2 separate regions of the Homo sapiens genome follow, and region 1 is linked to region 2. The links come from fine-mapping of genetic effects on gene expression. A gene starts in region 2. The other region holds a variant in brackets. All regions are shown on one strand. Distances are from middle to middle.

What was found. PIP is the estimated chance that this variant, and not a neighbour inherited with it, causes the effect. A credible set is the group of variants that fine-mapping cannot tell apart.
Region 1: its variant is the best candidate, but not a certain one, in a credible set for the expression of SPINT2 in whole blood (INTERVAL, PIP 0.68).

The regions. Positions count from the first base shown.
Region 1 is chr19:38,158,013-38,167,708 of GRCh38, forward strand. SIPA1L3 (signal induced proliferation associated 1 like 3) reads left to right here. Exons shown (of 22, transcript NM_015073.3): 14 at 4,241-4,359; 15 at 6,467-6,894. It overlaps SNORD152 (small nucleolar RNA, C/D box 152), which reads left to right and starts at 5,084; the gene lies at 5,084-5,137. RefSeq lists a silencer at 8,286-8,488. The variant T/A (reference allele first, on the strand shown) is at 4,944.
Region 2 is chr19:38,258,660-38,268,355 of GRCh38, forward strand. SPINT2 (serine peptidase inhibitor, Kunitz type 2) reads left to right here and starts at 5,914. Exons shown (of 7, transcript NM_021102.4): 1 at 5,914-6,339. The coding sequence starts at 6,234. RefSeq lists enhancers at 2,530-3,467, 3,468-4,404, 4,545-5,462 and a silencer at 5,619-5,938.

The DNA of each region.
Region 1 (9,696 bases), 100 kb before region 2:
GGCGGATCACTTGAGGTCAGGAGTTCGAGAGCAGCCTGGCCAACATGGTGAAACCCCATCTCTACTAAAAATTAGCCAGGCATAGTGGCGGGCACCTGTAATCCCAGCGGCTCGGGAGGCTGAGGCAGGAGAATCACTTGAACCCGGGAGGTGGAGGTTGCAGTGAGCCGAGATTGTGCCACTGCACTCCAGCCTGGGCAACAGAGCAGTCTCTGTCTCAAAAGAAAAAAAAAGTGGAAACTGTCACAGTGTGCAGAAGGAGATTTACAGGGTTTGGGGGGCATCTCTGAGCAAATCACATTTCAGGTGAGGTTGGAATAATGCAAAGAAGTCAGTGGGGATGAGAACATTCCAGGGAAAGTGAACAGCTAGTTGGAGACCCTGAGGTGGTGGCGATGAGGCCCATGTGGTGAGAACTGAGATCAGGGAGGGGACGGGCAGAGTATGTGGAGCCTCTTGGGCCACGGGGAGGCGGTTGTCCTGTACTGAGAGTGGGACAGGAGCCGCAGGTCTCAGTCTTCTGTGCAGAGGAGGGGCAGGATCTGACTCGGGTGTTCCCAGGAGCCCCTGGCTACAGATTACTGTCAGGTGGGGTGGGAGCAGGACCAGGTGGGGACAGAGGTAGGCGGAGATGCACGATTCTGGATATAGTATTTTAAAGGCAGCGTTAACCAAATTTCTTGATGATGCCTAGTTGTGGGCATGAGAGAAGTCAAGGATGCCACAGGGGGTTTGGCCACAGCAGCTGAAAGGAGAAGCCATGAACTGAGCAGGAAAACTGTGGGAGATGCAGGTTTGGGGGAAGGTACAGCCCTTGGCTTGGCCTTGGCCATGTTCAGTGAGAGGTGCCTGATAGATACCCAAGTGGAGGTGCTGCAGGGCAGCCGAGTTCAAGTGTCAAGTCAGGGGCAGAGGTCAGCCCAGAGGTAGAGCACTGGAGTTGTCCGTTGTCTGTGGTTTTTGAGGCCGGATGTGACTGCCATGGGCTTCGCTCTGTAGAAATGTGGTCTCCCAGAGTGACTGCCCACCTCCCGGGGAGCCAGCACCTTCTGGGTGTATAAAAATGCCCCAAAGAGGAAAACCATCAATGGAGGCAGAGCAGGTGGACAAAGAGGCCAGCCTCCCCACTTTCTCGCATCCATGGTTCCCCAGTGAAAGCCACACACGCGGTGACACCCTCAACTGAGACTAGACCACATCCAGCCAGGCCATTCTCTGCAGTGGCCCTGAGTGCCCTGCCTGGTCACCCGGGCCACCTTCCCCAGCAGGAACATGGGCCCAAGAGTACCCTGGGCTTGCACCGGAGGTGGCAGTGTGATTGCAAGCTCGGGGTCCCACAGGCCTGGTGGGCAGTTCTGAGTTGGGCGTATGCTTGGTGTGTGGCCTCAGCAGTGACCTCCTCCCCCTCAGCCTCAGGTCCCACTCCTGTAGTGGACATCCTAGGTGTCTCTCCTTCCAGGGCAGTTTGTGGGGGGTCCAGTGAGATAATGCCGGCCAAGCCCACGGCCCATCATTAGGAGAACAAGAGCTCCTGCCCATCGGGCACTCACTCTCCACCACTGCCAGCATTGCCGTTGTTGGTGAAGCCAAGGGAGGAGGCAGGGCTTGACAGCACAGGTGCTAAACTAGGCCAATCCGAGCCACACGTCCTGCCTGGCCCTTTCCCACTGTGCGACCTTGGACCAGCTGCTTAACCTCTCCGAGTCTTGTTCCACATCTATCGGAGATGCTCCTGATACCCACTTCACAGTGGTACTGGGAGGACGCAGCAGGGTAATGTATGCAGAGTGCTTACCATAGCGCCTGACACAGAACACACGCTTAATGGGAATTATCATTATGTTAATGATCTTGAATACCATAGTGATCAAAAGTCAGCTTTGGGGTTAAATCACCGGCGTTCAGCTCCTCAGTTAGTGCATTTGTAATTTCCATAGATAATATCTAAATGCCCTCCACTGGGGTTGGTCACTTTTTATGTATGTCTTTATTTATTTTATTTTTTATTTATTTTTTTGAGACGGAGTATTGCTCTGTTGCCCAGGATGGAGTGTAATGGCGCGATCTCGGCTCACTGCAGCCTCCACCTCCCAGGTTCAAGCAATTCTCCTACCTCAGCCTCCCGAGTAGCTGGGACTACAGGCATGTGCCATCACACCCAGCTAATTTTTTTGTATTTTTAGGAGAGACAGGGTTTCACCATGTTGGTCAGGCTGGTCCTGAACTCCTGACCTCAAATGATCCCCCCATCTTGGCCTCCCAAAGTGCTGGGATTACAGGCATGAGCCACCGCACCTGGCCAATTTTTTTTTAAGGTCAGCAAGATACTTGGTCCAGGCATACTGACTAGGCTGGAGAGGTTAAACCAGTTGACATCCAGAGCAGCTGCTACTCTTTTTTTTTTTTTTGAGACGGAGTCTCGCTTAGTCTCCAGGCTGGAGTGCAGGGGTGCGATCTCGGCTCACTGCAGCCTCCTCCTCCCAGGTCCAAGCGATTCTTCTGCCTCAGCCTCCCAAGTAGCTGGGACTACAGGCGTGCACCACCACACCCAGCTATTTTTTGTATTTTTTTTAGTAGAGACGGGGTTTCACCATGTTGGACAGGATGGTCTCAACTCTTGACCTCGTGCTCTGCCCGCCTCGGCCTCCCAAAGTGCTGGGATTACAGGCGTGAGCCACCGCACCAGGCCTGACATCCACAGCAGCCACTACTCTTAAACCCGCTTCACCTTTGGACCAGCAATTCCACCAGTAGCACTCTCTGTCCCACACACAATCCCACGCTTGCTCAAAGTCGCATGTAGAGGGAAGGCCACTGTAGAGGGAAGACTGTTCAAGATAACCTAAATATCCATCAGTAGGAAACTGGCAGGTCATTGATGTACATTCACTTAGTGCAATACTATTAGGGTAACATCACATTCAATTATGTGAAGACCTATGGTGAAGATATAAAGAGAAAAGCAAGTATAGACATATTACAAAGTGAAAAATTAAGTTGTAGGACAGTGTTTATTATTATTCCATTTTTGTTTTTTAAAAAAGTTGTGGGCCGGGCACGGTGGCTCACATCTGTAATCCCAGCACTTTGGGAGGCTGAGATGGGTGGATCACGAGGTCAGGAGTTCGAGACCAGCCTGGCCAAGATGGTGAAACCCCGTCTCTACTAAAAATACAAAAATTAGCCGGGCGTGGTGGCCAGTGCCTGTAATCCCAGCTACTCAGGAGGCTGAGGCAGGAGAATCACTTGACCTGGGAGGCAGAGGTTGCAGTGAGCTGAGATCACACCACTGCGCTCTAGCCTGGGTGACAGAGCAAGACTCCGTCTCAAAAAAAAAAAAAAAAAAAAACTATGTACATACAACCAACAAAGGATTGCTACCTTGCATATGTAAAGAACTCTACTAACCAATAAGATAAAAGATAGTTTGGGCCGGGTGCGGTAGCTCACACCTGTAATCCCAGCACTTTGGGAGGCCGAGGCAGGTGGATCACGAGGTCAGGAGTTCGAGACCAGCCTGGCCAATATGGTGAAACCCTGTCTCCACTAAAAATACAAAACAATTAGCTGGGCATGGTGGTGCCACACCTGTAATCCCAGCTGCTTGAGAGGCTGAGACAGGAGAATCACTTGAACCCTGGGCAGTGGAGGGTGCAGTGAGCTGAGATCATACCACTGCACTCCAGCCTGAGCGACAGAGCGAGACCCCATCTCAAAAAAGACAGTCAAGCTCATAGATAAATGGGTAAAGGAGGCTAGGCATGGTGGCTCACGCCTATCATCCCAGCACTTTGGGAAGCTGAGGCAGGAGGATCACTTGAGGCCAGGAGTTCAAGACCACCCTGGATGCTGTAGCAAGACCTCAAAAAAAAAAAAAAAATTAGCCAAGCATGGTGATGCACACCTGTAGTCCTAGCTACTTGGGAGGCTGAGGCGGGAGGATGGCTTCAACCCAGGAGTTCAAGGTTACAGTGAGCTATGATCATTCCATTGCACTTTAGCCTGGGTGACAGGGAGAGAGGGAAATGGGATATTGCACGGCTTCAGTGAGGCCCTCAGAACGGTGTCTGGCACATAGTATGTGCTGAGATGTATTCTCTGTTACTGAGTGTTGCACTCCAAGGTGTAAATTGATGGGGTCATGCCGTGGGTGAGCAGACAGTCTGGCAAAGGGTCCAGATTCTTCAGGCCCTGGCCTGAGTCACTCCTAACCACTGGTGTGTCTCCTGTTTTCCTACAGAGCCTTTGTGGCATGTGCCTGCCCAGGCCAGGCTCTCAGCCATAGCCGGAAGCAGCGGGAACAAGCACCCGTCCAGGCAGGATGCAGCAGGCAAAGATTCCCCCAACAGGCATTCCAAAGTGAGTCTGGGCCCCACCCTGCCCTACCGGGGGAGCCAGGCCTGCCTGGGTGTGGCCTCTGAGCTTCACACTTGAGCACATCCTCAACCTCTGCCACCTTCCACTCAGCAGAGGGGTTGAATACTTGGTCTGAGTTGGAACCAACCAGGTTCACATTCTGGCTCCAGCCCTCATCAGCCAGGTCATCTAGGGCAAATCCCTTTACCTCCTCGAGCCGCAGTTTCCTCATTGTTCCATCAGTCATGGTAAATCAGCTGCTGTAACAGACAGCCCCGAATCTCAGTGACTTCATACAGTGGAAGTGGATTTCCCTCTCCTGTAACAGCGCAGTGCAGGTATTCAGTGAGCATCTACCCGCCATTCACGTGGTGATTCAGAGCCCAGGCTCCCTCCCTCTTGTGGCTCTGCTGTCCCTCAGAGGTTCCAAGCCCTCTGCTGGGTCCCTGCGTCTTTCCAGCAGTGGAGGTGAGTGGGAGAAAAGATCACATGGGAGGTGTTTTTTAGCCCAGGCCTGGAAATGGCATGAATCGCTTCCATTCCATCACGTGGCCACACCTAGCTGCAAGGGAGGCTGGGAAATGTAG[T/A]CTTGCATGGCCCAGGAAGGCTGGGGATGTAGTCCTGTGTGTCCAGGAGGAGGAGATGGTTTGCAGGGGCTCTTGGCAATCTCTTTGTATCCATTCGTTCAGTGGGTGTTTGACAAGCGCTTACAACACTCCAGGCATTGGGACCATGATGATGAAGAGGACAGACCAGCCCTGTCCTCAGGAAGCTGACTTCCCATTTGGGGCAGCAAGCAGTAAGCAGATAAACAGATCTGTTGTATAAGAAAAAGTGCGGGCTGGGCGCGGTGGCTCACGCCTATAATCCCAGTGCTTTAGGAGGCCAAGGCGGACGGATCACCTGCAGTCAGGAGTTCGAGACCAGCCTGGGCAACCTAGTAAAACCCCGTCTCTACTAAAAATACAAAAATTAGCCAGGCGTGGTGGCAGGAACCTATAATCCCAGCTCCTTGGGAGGCTGAGGCACAAGAATTGCTTGAACCCAGGAGGCAGAGGCTGCAGTAAGCCAAGATTGCACCACTGCACTCCAGCCTGAGCGACAGAGTGAGACTCTATCTCAAAAAAAAAAAAAAAAAAAAAACAGTCCAGGGGAGAGAGTGACAAGCACTGCAGCTCAAGGATGATGTGGTCAGAGAGGGCCTTTGAGGGGGTGACCTTTGAGCGGAAACCTTGAGTGAAGGAAGGGGGAGGCCCACGAAGATCTCTCAGGGAAGAGTATTGCAGGCAGAGGGAGCAGCAGGCGCAGAGGCCCTGACGGGGAGTGCCCAGTATGTTCCGAGAATAGCAAGGGGGCCACCATGGCCACAGCAACGTGATCGGGAGGGAGGGGAGATGAAGTTGGAGACCGGGACCCAAGCATCAAAGCCCCATGGGCCATGCTGGGAACTCTCACTTGTGCCTGGAGTAAGATGGAGCCACAGGTGGGGGTCATCATCTAACTCAGGTGTTCTCAGCCTTCTGCTGGCTGCGTGTGGGGAATAAACAGGGGGATGAGGGTGCAGAGAGACCAGGGAGGAGGCTGCTGCACTGGCCCCAGGGGGAGGACAGGACAGGCATGGACAGGACCACGCGGAGCCGTGGAGCAGGAAGTGACAGGTCCCGGATCTGTGTTGAGGACGCGGGCAGCAGGGTTTGCTAGTGGGCTGGACATGAGTGAGAGCAAAAGCGGGGTCAAGGTGAGTCCACGGCTCTTGGCAGGGGCAGCTGAAAGCATGGCCGGCGTCATTGAGATGAGGAAGACGCTGCCGAACTCAGTCTTAGATTCGCTGAGTCTGAGATGTGGGAAGCATGTTCTGTGCCTGATGTCATTTGTTCCTCTGAGCAGCCCCATGAGGCAGGCTTACTATCACCCTCCATTTTACAGATGTGGAAACTGAGGCTGAGGGAAGGTAAATCACTTGCCCAAGGTAACACGGCCAGTAGATGAGAAGCCAGGATTTGAAGCTGTCTGGTCCCAGGGTTCAGGCCCAGGCAGAGGGAGGACCCGGCAAGGGAAGATGCGCCCCTGCCCTGGAGTCTGGGAATGACACGCTTCTCTTGCCTCTCAGGGAGAACCTCAATACTCAAGTCATTCCAGCAGCAACACCCTCTCCAGCAACGCATCCAGCAGCCACAGCGACGACCGCTGGTTCGACCCCCTGGACCCCCTGGAGCCAGAGCAAGACCCCCTCTCCAAGGGTGGCTCTAGTGACAGCGGCATCGACACCACCCTCTACACCTCCAGCCCTAGCTGCATGTCCCTGGCCAAGGCTCCACGGCCCGCCAAGCCACACAAGCCCCCTGGAAGTATGGGCCTTTGTGGCGGGGGTCGCGAGGCCGCTGGGAGGTCCCACCACGCAGACAGGCGGCGGGAGGTCTCCCCTGCCCCCGCAGTTGCCGGCCAAAGCAAGGGCTACCGACCGAAGCTGTACTCCTCCGGCTCCAGCACCCCCACGGGACTGGCGGGGGGCAGCCGAGACCCACCGAGGCAGCCCAGGTAAGCTGTTGCACCTAGTCTGGGTTCTAACCACCTTCCACTTCGCCAGTTCTACTTTTACGGTCCTGATGGTGGGGTTCTCCTCCCCAGAAACACACTCACGGATGAATGCGCCTAGTCATTGGTTTGCTGACAGAATTGAGGAGCTCGTGGATCTCTGCCTTATTGCCCATCCATCAGCATTCAGGGACCCCAGGTGGAGGGAAAGAAACCCCTGGCCTTCTGTCTCTGTTTTCATCTGTCTCTGGTTCTCTCTGACCCTCTGTCTCTTTTTTCTTTGCTCTCTGCTGATACCAAAAGTTTTTATGCTTTCTAAAGGGTCACAGACTGTATCTGATAGAGTGTATTTGGCTGGAGGCAATAGGAAACCTGACCCTCTGTGGCTTAAACAAATAGAGGTGTAACAAACAGTCCCCTAACATGAAGTCCAGAGAAGGCAGAGCCAGGCTAGTGCTGTGGCTTGTGGAGAGCCTCAAGGATTGGCACTCTGTGTCTCCCTGCTCGGCATCTTTACCATGCTGGCTCATGTCTCACTTGCCTTGAGATGGAGCTGTGCTGCCTGGTGAGTGGCAGTTGGGGACAGAGAAGAGGGGAAAGTTGGAAGCCTCTGAGCACCTTTCCCTTCCTATGGAGAAAGCAAACACTTTCCCAGAACCCCTTTCAGCAGCTGGCATCACGGGGCCATCCCAGCTACAAGGAGGTCTGGAAAGTTGTAGTTTGGTCTTCCAGGCTCTACCGTATACGGCGATGGTCCCCACAGAAGCCCTCAAAGGCTTGTTCAGCCCAGCTGCTGGCCCCCACCCAGAGTTTCTGATTCAATAGGTCGGAGCGGGAGACCTGAGAACGTGCATTGGTGTTTTTTTGTTTGTTTTTTAGACGGAGTTTCGTTCTATTCACCAGGCCGGAGTGCAGTGGTGCGGTCTCAGGCTCACTGCACCCTCTACCTCCCAGGTTCAAGTGATTCTCCTGCCTCGGCCTCCCGAGTAGCTGAGATTACAGGTGCCCACCACCATGCCCAACTAATTTTTGTATTTTTAGTAGAGACAGGGTTTCACCATGTCGGCCAGGCTGGTCTCAAACTCCTGACCTAAAGGGATCCTCCCACCTCAGCCTCCCAAATTGCTGGGATCACAGGTGTGAGCCACCATGCCCGGCTGAGAATATGCATTAAGTTCTCAGTAAATGCTGATGCTGCTGGTCCCAGGACCACACTTTGAGAGCCACTGGTAGAGAGGCAGACGGGAGTAAGAGAGAAAGAGTAGGCATTGGCTGGAAACGGTGGCTCATACCTGTAATCCCAGCACTTTGGGAGGCCAAGGCGGGTGGATCATGAGGTCAGGAGATCCAGACTGTCCTGGCCAACATGGTGAAACCCCGTCTCTACTTAAATACAAAAAAAAATTAGCCAGGCATGGTAGTGGGCGCCTGTAGTCCCAGCTACTTGGGAGGCTGAGGCAGGAGAATCGCTTGAACCCAGGAGGCAGAGGTTGCAGTGAGCCGAGATCGTGCCACTGCACTCCACCCAGGCGACAGAGCAAGACTCTGTCTCAAAAAAAAAAAAAAGAAAAGAAAAGAAAAGCAGGAATTGGCGAGCCAGCAGCCTAGAGTCCCGACCACACACACTGACGTTCGGATGGAGGCAATGAGCCACCTTCCAGAAAAGGGCACAGAGATGGAAAGAGTATTCTACACAGACACAGAGCTCAGCCTCATCCTTGGACCCCCTTAGGGTTCTGTGACCCCAGCAGGGCTTGCTGTGCTGTAGTGTCCAGTGCCAGCCCCTGAGTCCACAGCCCCACATCCCTTCCTGACCATGCCTGGGGTGGGCTAGCCTGAGTCCCCGATAGCCATCAGGGCTCAGAACCTGGTTGGCGCAGGGATCTTCCTCTCCTGTGGCGCCCTAAAGCCTTTTCCAGTCCTCAAACCCCAGCCTCTCTCCACACAGGACACCCACACTCAGGCAGCCAACTCAGACTTCTGACCACAGTCCACAGTAGAATTGTGTCCATCTATACAGAAATATCTATGTTAAAAAAAAAAAAAGGTGGCTTTGAGCAGTGGCTCACGCCTGTAATCCCAGCACTTTGGGAGGCCAAGGCAAGCGGATCACAAGGTCAAGAGCTCGAGACCGTCCTGGCCAACATGGTGAAACCCCATCTCTACTGAAAATACAAAAATTAGCTGGGCGTGGTGGTGGGCACCTGTAGTCCCAGATACTCGGGAGGCTGAGGCAGGAGAATCGCTTGAATCTGGGAGGCAGAGGTTGCAGTGAGCCAAGATCATGCCACTGCACTCCAGCCTGGCAACAGAGCGAGATTCCATCTCAAAAAAAAAAAAAAAAAGGTGAAGCAGTGGTTTCCAAAATAATTCTTAACCTGTGTGTGATATACTTTGATCCAGTCTACTCTATTTAAAAACTTTTAATGCTGATCAATCCCCACTCAGATGATTTCATGGCTTACAGTGTTCTCTGACAGATATTTGAAAACCACTGTGTTTGAGTGATTGTAGTGTCAGCACTTCCCCGGGCACACTGTGATCCAAGGGTCTCCTTGAGTCAAAGAGCCAGGAGAAGGGCTGAAGGAGGAAAGAGGAGACAGACAGAGAGAGACACTGTCTGAGTGTTTTAGACCTCTCAGTTCATCTCCCTAGACAAGTGGCTGTTTGTTTTTTAGAAACAGGGTCCTGCTCTATTGCCCAGGCTGGGGTGCAGTAGTACGACCATAGCTCACGATAGCCTCGAACTCCTCAGCTCAAGTGTTCCTCCCACCTCAGCCCCCTAAGTAGCTGAGACTACAGGTG
Region 2 (9,696 bases):
TGAGTTATATCTCAATAAGACTGTGTTTTTTTTTTTTTTTTTTTTTTTTTTTGAGGCAGAATCTCGCTCTGTTGGCCAGGCTGGAGTGCACTGGCATGATCTCAGCTCACTGCAACCTCTGCCTCCCAGGCTCAAGCAATTCTCCTGCCTCAGCCTCCCGAGTAGCTGGGATTACAGGGGTGTGCCACCACGCCTGGCTAATTTTTGTATTTTTAGTAGAAACGGGGTTTCACCATGTTGGCCAGGCTGGTCTTGAACTCCTGACCTCAGGTAATCCACCTGCCTAGGCCTCCCAAAGTGCTGGGATTACAGGCGTGAGCCACCGTGCCCGGCTTCAATAAAGCTGTTTTATTTCAAAATTAAAAACAGGCCAGGCGCCATGGTTCACGTCTGTAATCCCAGCACTTTGGGAGGCTGAGGTGAGTGGATTATCTGAGGTCAGGAGTTTGAGACCAGCCTGACCAACATGGTGAACCCGTCTCTACTAAAAATGCAAAAAAAATTAGCCAAGCATGGTGGTGCACCCCTGTAATCCCAGCTACTCAGGAGGCTGAGGTGGGAGAATTGCTTGAACCTGGGAGGCGGAGGCTGCAGTGAGCTGAGATCGTGCCATCACACTCCAGCCTGGGCGACAGAGAAAGACCCCATCTCTAAAAAAACAAAAATAAAAAACAACTATCCATAGCTACCCATGACCTTCAGTCTAAAGGCCAAACTCTGGTTTAGCAGTCCCATCTCTGCCAGGGACAGTCCCATTTCAGCACCAGCACCTTTCACTCGCAGTTCCCTCTGCCAGGAAGGTTCTTCCCTAGAATATCATCAGGGCTCACTCCTTCACCTCCCTCCAATGTCACTGTTCAGTGAGGTCTTCCCTGGCCACGCTATTTCACACTGCAACTCTCGTGCCCCTCATCCAGCTCTGTTTGATACATAACACTTACCACTTTCTAACATTATATATATATATATATATATATATATTTTTTTTTTTTTTTTTTTTTTTTTTTTTTTTTTTTTGAGTTGGAGTCACCTCAGGCTGGAGTATAGTATTGTGATCATGGCTCACTGCAACCTCTGCCTCCTGGGTTCAAGAGATTCTCCTGCTTCAGCCTCCTGAGTAGCTGGGACTACAGTTATACACCACTGTGTCCGCTTACTTTTTATATTTTCAGTAGAGATGGGGTTTCACCATGTTGGTCAGGCTGGTCTCGAACTCCTGACCTCAGACGATCTGCCCGTCTTGACCTCCCAAAGTGCTGGAATTACAGGCATGAGCCACCATGCCTGGCCTCTAACATTATATATAATGTACTCATTTAATGTATTGTCCATGCCAGGCGTGGTGGCTCACACCTGTAATCTCAGCACTATAGGATGCTGAGGCAGGAGGAGCAATTACATCCAGGAGTTCAAGATCAGCTTGGGCAACATAGTGAGACCCTGTCGCTACAAAAAAAAAAAAAAAAAAAAAAAGCCAGGTGCAATAGTACATGCTTGTAGTCCCAGTTACTCTGGAGGCTGAGTTGGGAGGATCACTTGAGTCCAGGAGATGGAGGACGCAGTGAACTGTGATTGCACCACTGCACTCCAGCCTGGGTGATGGAGTGAGACCCTGTCTCAAAAAGAAAAATGTCATATTTTCTGTTCTGTGCAGTGACAGAAAAAAAAAATTATTGTCTGTTTCCCAACTAGTAGCATACTAAAGGCAGGGGGACAGGACTGGTCCACTTTGGGTACAGGCAAAAAGAGGGTGCACTGTCTGTAGAGAATTTAAAAATAAAAAGCTGACCAAGGCCGGGCATGGTGGCTCATGCCTGTAATCCCAGCACTTTGGGAGGCCAAGGCAGGCAGATCACCTGAGGTCAGGAGTTCAAGACCTGCCTGGCCAACATGGTGAAACCCCATCTCCATAAAAATACAAAAATTAGCCGGGTGTGGTGGTACAAGCCTGTAATCCCAGCTACTTGGGAGACTGAGGCAGGAGAATCGCTTGAACCCGGGAGGTGGAGGTTGCGATGAGCCAAGATCGTGCCATTGCACTGCAGCCTAGGCGACAGACAGAGTGAGACTCCATTTCAAAAAAACTGACCAAAAGTTGGTCTAATTTTTATTTTACTTTGCAGTGACATTTCTAAACAGTGTCAATGATAAAATAGTCCTCCCCAGGGAAGAAACAGAAACAAAAACCTTTTGGTGGTCTGCTTTCTAAACAATTGATGCAATATAAAAAAGGGGGAAAAAAACAATTGATGCAATTACTGTCGGTTTTTTTTTTGTTTTGTTTTTGTTTCATTTTTTGAGACGGAGTTTCGCTCTTGTTGCCCAGGCTGGAGTACAATGGCACTATCTCAGCTCACTGCAACCTCCACCTCCCAGGTTCAAGCGATTCTCCTGCCTCAGCCTCCTGAGTAGCGCGGATTACAGGCATCCGCCACCACGCCCGACTAATTTTGTATTTTTAGCAGACAGGATTTCTCCATGTTGGTCAGGATGGTCTTGAACTCCCGACCTCAGGTGATCCGCTCGCCTCGGCCTCCCAAAGTGCTGAGATTACAGGTGTGAGCCAACCACGCCTGGCCTACTGTCAAGGTTTTTTTTTTGGTGTTTTTTTTTTTTTTTTTTTTTTTTTTTTTGAGACAGAGTCTCGCTCTGTCACCCAGGCTGGAGGGCAGTGGTGCAGTCTCAGCTCACTGCAACCTCCGCCTCCCGGATTCAAGCTATTCTCCTGCCTCAGCCTCCCGAGTAGCTGGGACTACAGGCGCCCGCCACCGCGCCCGGCCTCTTTTTTTTTTTTTTTTTTTTTTTTTTTGAGAACGAGTCTCGCGCCGTCGCTCAGGCTGGAGTGCAGTGGCGCAATGTCGGCTCACTGCAAACTCCACCTCCCAGGTTCAAGCGATTCTCCTGCCTCAGCCTCCCAAGTAGCTGGGACTACATGCGCCCACCACCACGCCCGGCTAGTCTTTTGTACTTTTTTTCAGTAGAGACGGGGTTTCACCGTGTTAGCCCAGATGGTCTCCATCTGCTGACCTCGTGATCCGCCCACCTCAGCCTTCTAAAATGCTGAGATTACAGGCATAAGCCACCGCACCCGGCCCTTCTTTTTTTTTTTTTTTTTTTTGAGACGAAGTCTCACACTGTCGCCCGGGCTGGTGTGCAGTGGGGCGATCTCGGCTCGCCGCAGCCTCCACCTCCCGGGTTCAAGCGATTCTCCTGCCTCAGCCTCTCCAGTGGCTGGGACTACAGGCGCGCGCCACCACGCCCGGCTAATTTTTGTATTTCTAGTAGAGACAGGGTTTCACTATGTTGGCCAGGCTGGTCTCAAATTCCTGACCTCGTGATCCGCCCACCTCGGCCTCCCAAAGTGCTGGGGATTACAGGCGTGAGCCACCTCTTTTTAATGAACTCTGAAGGATGATAAAGGCCAAGGGACAAACATTCCAAGCATCAGGAATGTTGATGCTTGGAATGTTTCTCAGGACAGATATGGAGATGCCCAGGCCTCCCAAAGTGCTGGGGATTACAGGCGTGTGAGCCCGGCCTCTTTTTTTTTTTTTTTTTTTTGAGAACGACTCTCGCGCTGTTGCTCAGGCTGGAGTACAGTGGCACAATATTGGCTCACTGCAAACCCCGCCTGCCGGGTTCAAGAGATTCTCCTGCCTCAGCCTCCCGAGTAGCTGGGACTACATGCTCCCGCCACCACGCCCGGCTAATCTTTTTGATTTTTTCACCGTGTTAGCCAAGATGGTCTTGATCTGCTGACCTCGTGATCCACCCGCCTTGGCCTCCCAAAGTGCTGGGATTACAGGCATGAGCCACTGCGCTCAGCCCTCCTTTTGAGTTTTTGTGTTTAAAGTTCAAAACTGGACAGATGCAGTGGCTCACGCCTGTAATCCCAGCACTTTGGGAGGTCAAGGTGGGCGGATCGTGAGGTCAGAAGTTCGAGACCAGCCTGGCCAACATGGTGAAACTCCATCTCTACAAAAAATACAAAAATTAGCTGGGCGTGGTGGCGGGTGGTGCCTGTAATCCCAGCTACTCAGGAGGCTGAGGCAGGAGAATTGCTTGAATCCAGGAGGTGGAGGTTGCAGTGAGCTGAGATCACAGCATTGCACTCCAGCCTGGGCAACAGGTGAAACTCTGTCTCAAAATAAAATAAAATAAAGAAAGAAGAGGCCTATACCTTCTTCCAAGCCTTGACGGCTCAGCACATACTTCTCTGTTTTCATGCTCAAGCCTAGGTTTAGTAGGCCTGAGTGGCAGTGGGAGATTCAAGTGCTGGGGGAGACCTTTGGCCTCACATTCAGATTCCACCTTGAGTCCCATGATCTCATTGCAAGGTTAGACTTCCATTGTTTAAGGTAAATACCATTTTGATAACTCAGTTACGGCTTTTCATGTATTATTATGCTAGGAGGGAGGCTGAAGAGTGGGAGTGGCCCTGGCTCCTGAACACACTATTCTCTTTCCTGCCTGAAGGCCTCCGCATGTGCCATTCCTGATTCTTGGAATGTTTGTCCCTTGGCCTTTATCATCCTTCAGAGTTCATTATCAAAGCCACCCCTCACAAAGCCCTTCCTCCGCCACCCCATTCAAAAGATCTCTTGTTATTTTCCATCCCAGCCCCTGATTCCTTTTCTGTATAGCACTGTCAAAGTGTTTTCAGGCCAGGTGTGGTGGTTCACGCCTGTAATACAACACTTTTGGAAGGATGAGACAGGAGGATCCCTTGAAGCCAGGAGTTTGAGACCAGCCTGGGCAACATAGCAAGTCCCCTGTCTCCACAAAAAATTTAAAAATTAGCTGGATGTGGTGGCTCACATCTGTAGTCCCAGCTACTTGGGAGGCTGAGGTGGGAGGATCCCTTGAGCCCAGGAGGTCAAGGCTGCAGTGAGCCAAGATCACTCCATTGCACTCCAGCCTGGGCAACAAGAGCAAAACTTCCATCTCAAAAAAAAAAAAAAAAAGAAATAATCTAAAAGTGTTTTCAATAATAATGCATTTATGTTGATTACCTTGTTGGCTATCCTCTACTCGTGTGCCTGCCCCACTCCATTCCCCTTTCTAGAGTCTGTTCACGTAACTCCTCTTCCAGGAAGCCCTCTTTGACTCCCAGGCTTGGTCAGGTGTCTTCTCTGGGTTTCCCCAGGGGCTTCCTTCCTCTCAATTCTGATGCTGCCTGTGCTAAGTATTTGTCTCCATATCTGTCCTGAGAACCTTGGAGCCAGGGCTCGGGGCTGTTTTTGCATGGGCCTATCACCTCCTCCAGGAAGCCCTCCTTGGCCCTCTCTCAGGCTGGATGGGAAAGCTGTCTGGGCTCCCATCATGCCCTGGTTTTCTAGCGACCCAGCCTCTGATCCCTAAGCTTGGCCTTCCCCATCACAGCTTTCATCACTTTGTGCTAAGCTTCCGCTATCACTACTCTGGGCCGTTCCTGTTTGGTGACTCAGGGACCAGTCTGGCATGGCCACCGCTGGGTCCCCAGCATTAAGCCCTGGAGCATGAGCCCAGTGAACTTTGAAATTCAGGAAGGAATTCACAGGAAAGCTGCGGCGAGGCGGGCAGAAAACCACAGGCTTCCAAGAAACGCGTGTCTGCCGCCCCCTCCTCCCACCCTGAGGCCAGTCCTAGAGCGAAGGCCCTCCTCCGACGTCGTCACCAAGCCCAAGGGAAGGGTGGCAGGTGCTCAGCGGGCAGACGCCCCGCCCCGCCCCGCCAGGTTCTGTTGGGGGCGAGGCCCGCGCAAGCCCCGCCTCTTCCCCGGCACCAGGGGCGGGCCCAGGTGCGCCCAGGGCCGGGGAGCGGCCGCGCAGGTGCCTGCCCTTTGCGCCTGCGCCCAGCTCGCCCTGCCTAGCCAGGTGCGCCCCGCCCCCTGCCTGCCCGGCCACCTTCGGGAGCCGCTTCCAATAGGCGTTCGCCATTGGCTCTGGCGACCTCCGCGCGTTGGGAGGTGTAGCGCGGCTCTGAACGCGCTGAGGGCCGTTGAGTGTCGCAGGCGGCGAGGGCGCGAGTGAGGAGCAGACCCAGGCATCGCGCGCCGAGAAGGCCGGGCGTCCCCACACTGAAGGTCCGGAAAGGCGACTTCCGGGGGCTTTGGCACCTGGCGGACCCTCCCGGAGCGTCGGCACCTGAACGCGAGGCGCTCCATTGCGCGTGCGCGTTGAGGGGCTTCCCGCACCTGATCGCGAGACCCCAACGGCTGGTGGCGTCGCCTGCGCGTCTCGGCTGAGCTGGCCATGGCGCAGCTGTGCGGGCTGAGGCGGAGCCGGGCGTTTCTCGCCCTGCTGGGATCGCTGCTCCTCTCTGGGGTCCTGGCGGCCGACCGAGAACGCAGCATCCACGGTGAGGGCCGGGCGGGTAGGCTGGAGGCGGGGCGCAGGGGGCAGAGGCTCGGGGGTCAACGGGGGTCTGAGCAGGGAGAACTGGCGGGGGAGGAAACTGGGGGCTACTTGATGGCGTTCAGCGGGTGTGGTGGAACCAGCCCTGGAGGATTGAGCCTTGAAATGAGGTTTGGGAGCCTTCGACAGCGAAGACGGGCGGAGGAGCGAGGGTTAGGAGAGTTTCCTTCGGGTGGAGGAAGAGTCAAGGGGTATTGACCAAGAAGGCGTGGCACTGCCCCTTCCTGTGGCAAGAACGGGGTGAGGAGCCGAATTGAAGACCAGCCTTCTCCTGGCGGTGGAAAGTTCCATGGCCAAAGCTCAGGGAGAGGCCAGGCCTGTGAGATGGTGGGGGTTGGGTTGGGTGACCTGGTGGCCGTTTTAGACTCGGAAGAAGCCCATCTCACCCCTGCCTCTTTGGAGATTGGACAAGAGCCTCCCCTGAAGTTTTTGTAGTTGAGTTGCAGTAAAGTAGGTGCCCGAGAAGGAGGGAGCAAGAAAGGAAACAAGCTTTGGGGAAGAGGAAGCTCTGCTAAGGCTCGAGAGAGTATTGGCGTTGAGCAGCTGGTGTTGGGGTCTTTGGATTGGCCCTTAGAAGTCGGTGGTGAATAAGGTGATTTAAACTTCTACACTCTTAAGGAAGTGTGGTCTGAAAGGTCTCTTTGAACAAGTGTTGTTATAACCTTAACTGCTTCAGACAAGCACCAGCGTGTTTTGAAAAGAGCTCTCTTGAAAGCAAGAATTCATTGATTCAGCAAAACTTACTGAGGCCCTGCTACGTGTCAGGCACTGGCGCTGGTTATAACAGTTAACTCAGACTAGCTGGGTTCCTGCATTCACAGAGCTAATATTCCAGTGGGAGAGGCAGAGCTAGTGAAGGTTTAAAAAGCACTTGCCATGAGATTAAGTTACTGAGAATTAAATGAACCAGGTGAAGTACACCAACAGGGTGACGTAAGATGTTGGGGGCGGCTTTAGCTCAGGTGGTCGGGGGACGTCTCCGTGAGGAGGGTGACATCTGAGCTCTAACATGAAGAATGAGGCAGTAGCCACACGGAGACCTGGGGGACCAGTGTCCAGTTGCAGGCAATAGAGTACAAAGGCCTTGAAGCTGGAACAAGCTTGGTTGGGTTCAGGGAAAAGACAGAGCCAGCCTGGCTGGAGCAGGCGTGAAGGAGGGGAGGACTGGAGGAGGATGGGAGGTGGGAGAGGTTGGCTGCAGCCAGATGGCCTAGGGCTTTATAGACAGGTGCTGGTGCTTGAACCCGGGAGGCGGATGTTGCAGTGAGCCAAGATCGCGCCACTGCATTCCAGCTTGGGCAACAAGAGTGAAACTCCCATCTCAAAAAAAAAAAAAGAAGGCCGGGTGATGTGGCTCATGCCTGTAATCCTAGAACTTTGGGAGGCCAAGGCGGGCAGATCACTGGAGGCCAGGAGTTCAACACCACCCTAGGCAACATGATGAAACCCCGTCTCTACCAAAAATACAAAAATTAGCTGGGCATGGTGGTGCACACCTGTAGTCCCGGCTACTCGGGAGGCTGAGGCAGGAGAATCGCTTGAAGCCCAGAGGCGGAGGCTGTAGTGAGCTGAGATCAAGCCACTGCACAGCAGCCTGGGCGACACAGCAAGACTCAGTCTCAAAAAAAAAAAAAAGAGCAGGCTAGGTGTGTACCAAGTCATCACCTGTGGTAACTTCTGGGGACTGGTTAATTTCTCTGTGCCCTAGGCAGGAGAAAAAAGTGAATTGGTGGGGAGAGGCTCAGCTGTAGGTGACTGGGAGTCAGGAATGCAGACGTTGATCATTCTTGCAATTCGAACCAGAATTTGGCAGCTCTGCTGGACTTTTTCAGTTTAAGTAATTACGTTAGGATGTACCTCCCAGTTACCTGGCCTCTTGCTACCTCTGGTGCTTACTCTGAGCTGGGACATGGCCTCTTGCTACCTCTGGTGCTTACTCTGAGCTGGGATGTGCCATTTAACCTTTGAAACAGCCGGGTGCGGTGGTGAAGTTACTTGCCTTGCCCGAGGTCACTCGGTAGTAGTAATTGACAAAGCCAGGTCTCACTGCAGAGGCCTTCTCTGTTCAGAGTGGCCTACCTGACTGCTGCTGCCGACTGGACCTACTGACCTTTCAGAAGTACTAGTGTCTGACTGGGTGAACTCATGCCCTCACTCATCGTAAGTTCTGTTTGTTTGAAAGCTTGAACAGCTTAATCGGAGGCAGAAGGCAGTTTTGACTTTTTTTTCCTCGCTCCTTCCTGATTGCTTCTGTTTTCTCCGGAAGCGAGTCATCCACTGGGAGTGTGGTGTTGCTGAAGCTCCATGCAGTGGCTCAGGTGCTGCTGGATGAGTGTGGTGGTGAGGGAGGAGTGAACAGAGAATGTGTGAGGGAGGGAGGATGGGGGTTGGTCAAGGAATTTATTCTGTATGAAAACATGAGGGGGCGGAGGGCCGAGGTAGATGGTAGGGCCAGCAGATTGTTGGAGTTGAGGTTCTGAAGGGAATGAACCAGACAGATAGGATGCAGTGGGTAGTGAGTGAGATGCATGAGAGGGAGGTTCTGAAGAGGTGGCAGTTACTGAGACAGGTCTAGGTGTGACCCTGAGAGGAAGCGGGGGGGCGAGGGTGGGAGGAGATCAGGTGGAGGTCTTGGGACCTAGAGGTCAGAGGACCATCTACCTGGATATAGAAATCTCCAAGAATGATCATAAGAGCAGCGGGAGAGGTGGCAGGCCCGGAGCTAAAGTTGGGAAGGAAGAAGTAGTTGTCTGGGTTGGCAGATAACGTGCCAGGCGGGGTAGTGAATGATTTACTCTAATAATGGAAGTCTCCCAGCTGGGGATTTTGGGGAGGGTGGAGGGAGAACAGTCCAGAAGCAGCTCCCAGGAGCAAGGAGACCTCCCCACTTGGAAGGGCCCCAGGAGGTGTGCCCTCAGGGGAGATTCCAATTAGGTAAGAGGGTGGCAACAATGTTCAGAGGAGATTGAGGACATGGAAGATTTGCTCAAGACCAGTCCTGAGTACCAGAGGGCCCAGGAGTTGGGGGAGGGGAGATGGGGACAAAGCAGGCCCCACCGTGTGAGAGTGAGGGTTAACTCAGGGGTCGGGGCTTCTTGTGAGAAGCATCATGTGGTCTATGATTGATGTGTTGGTGACGCTCTGAGTAGTGAGGGCAGGTGGGAAGGGACAGGTGGACGGGCCGGACAAAGAGTGTCCTGACTCCAACCTCTGCAGACAGAGGTGGGGGGAAAGCTGAGCTTATGCCAGGTGAGAAAGCTCCCCTATCTAGCGTTAGGGACAGTTACCGTCTGGAGTGGAA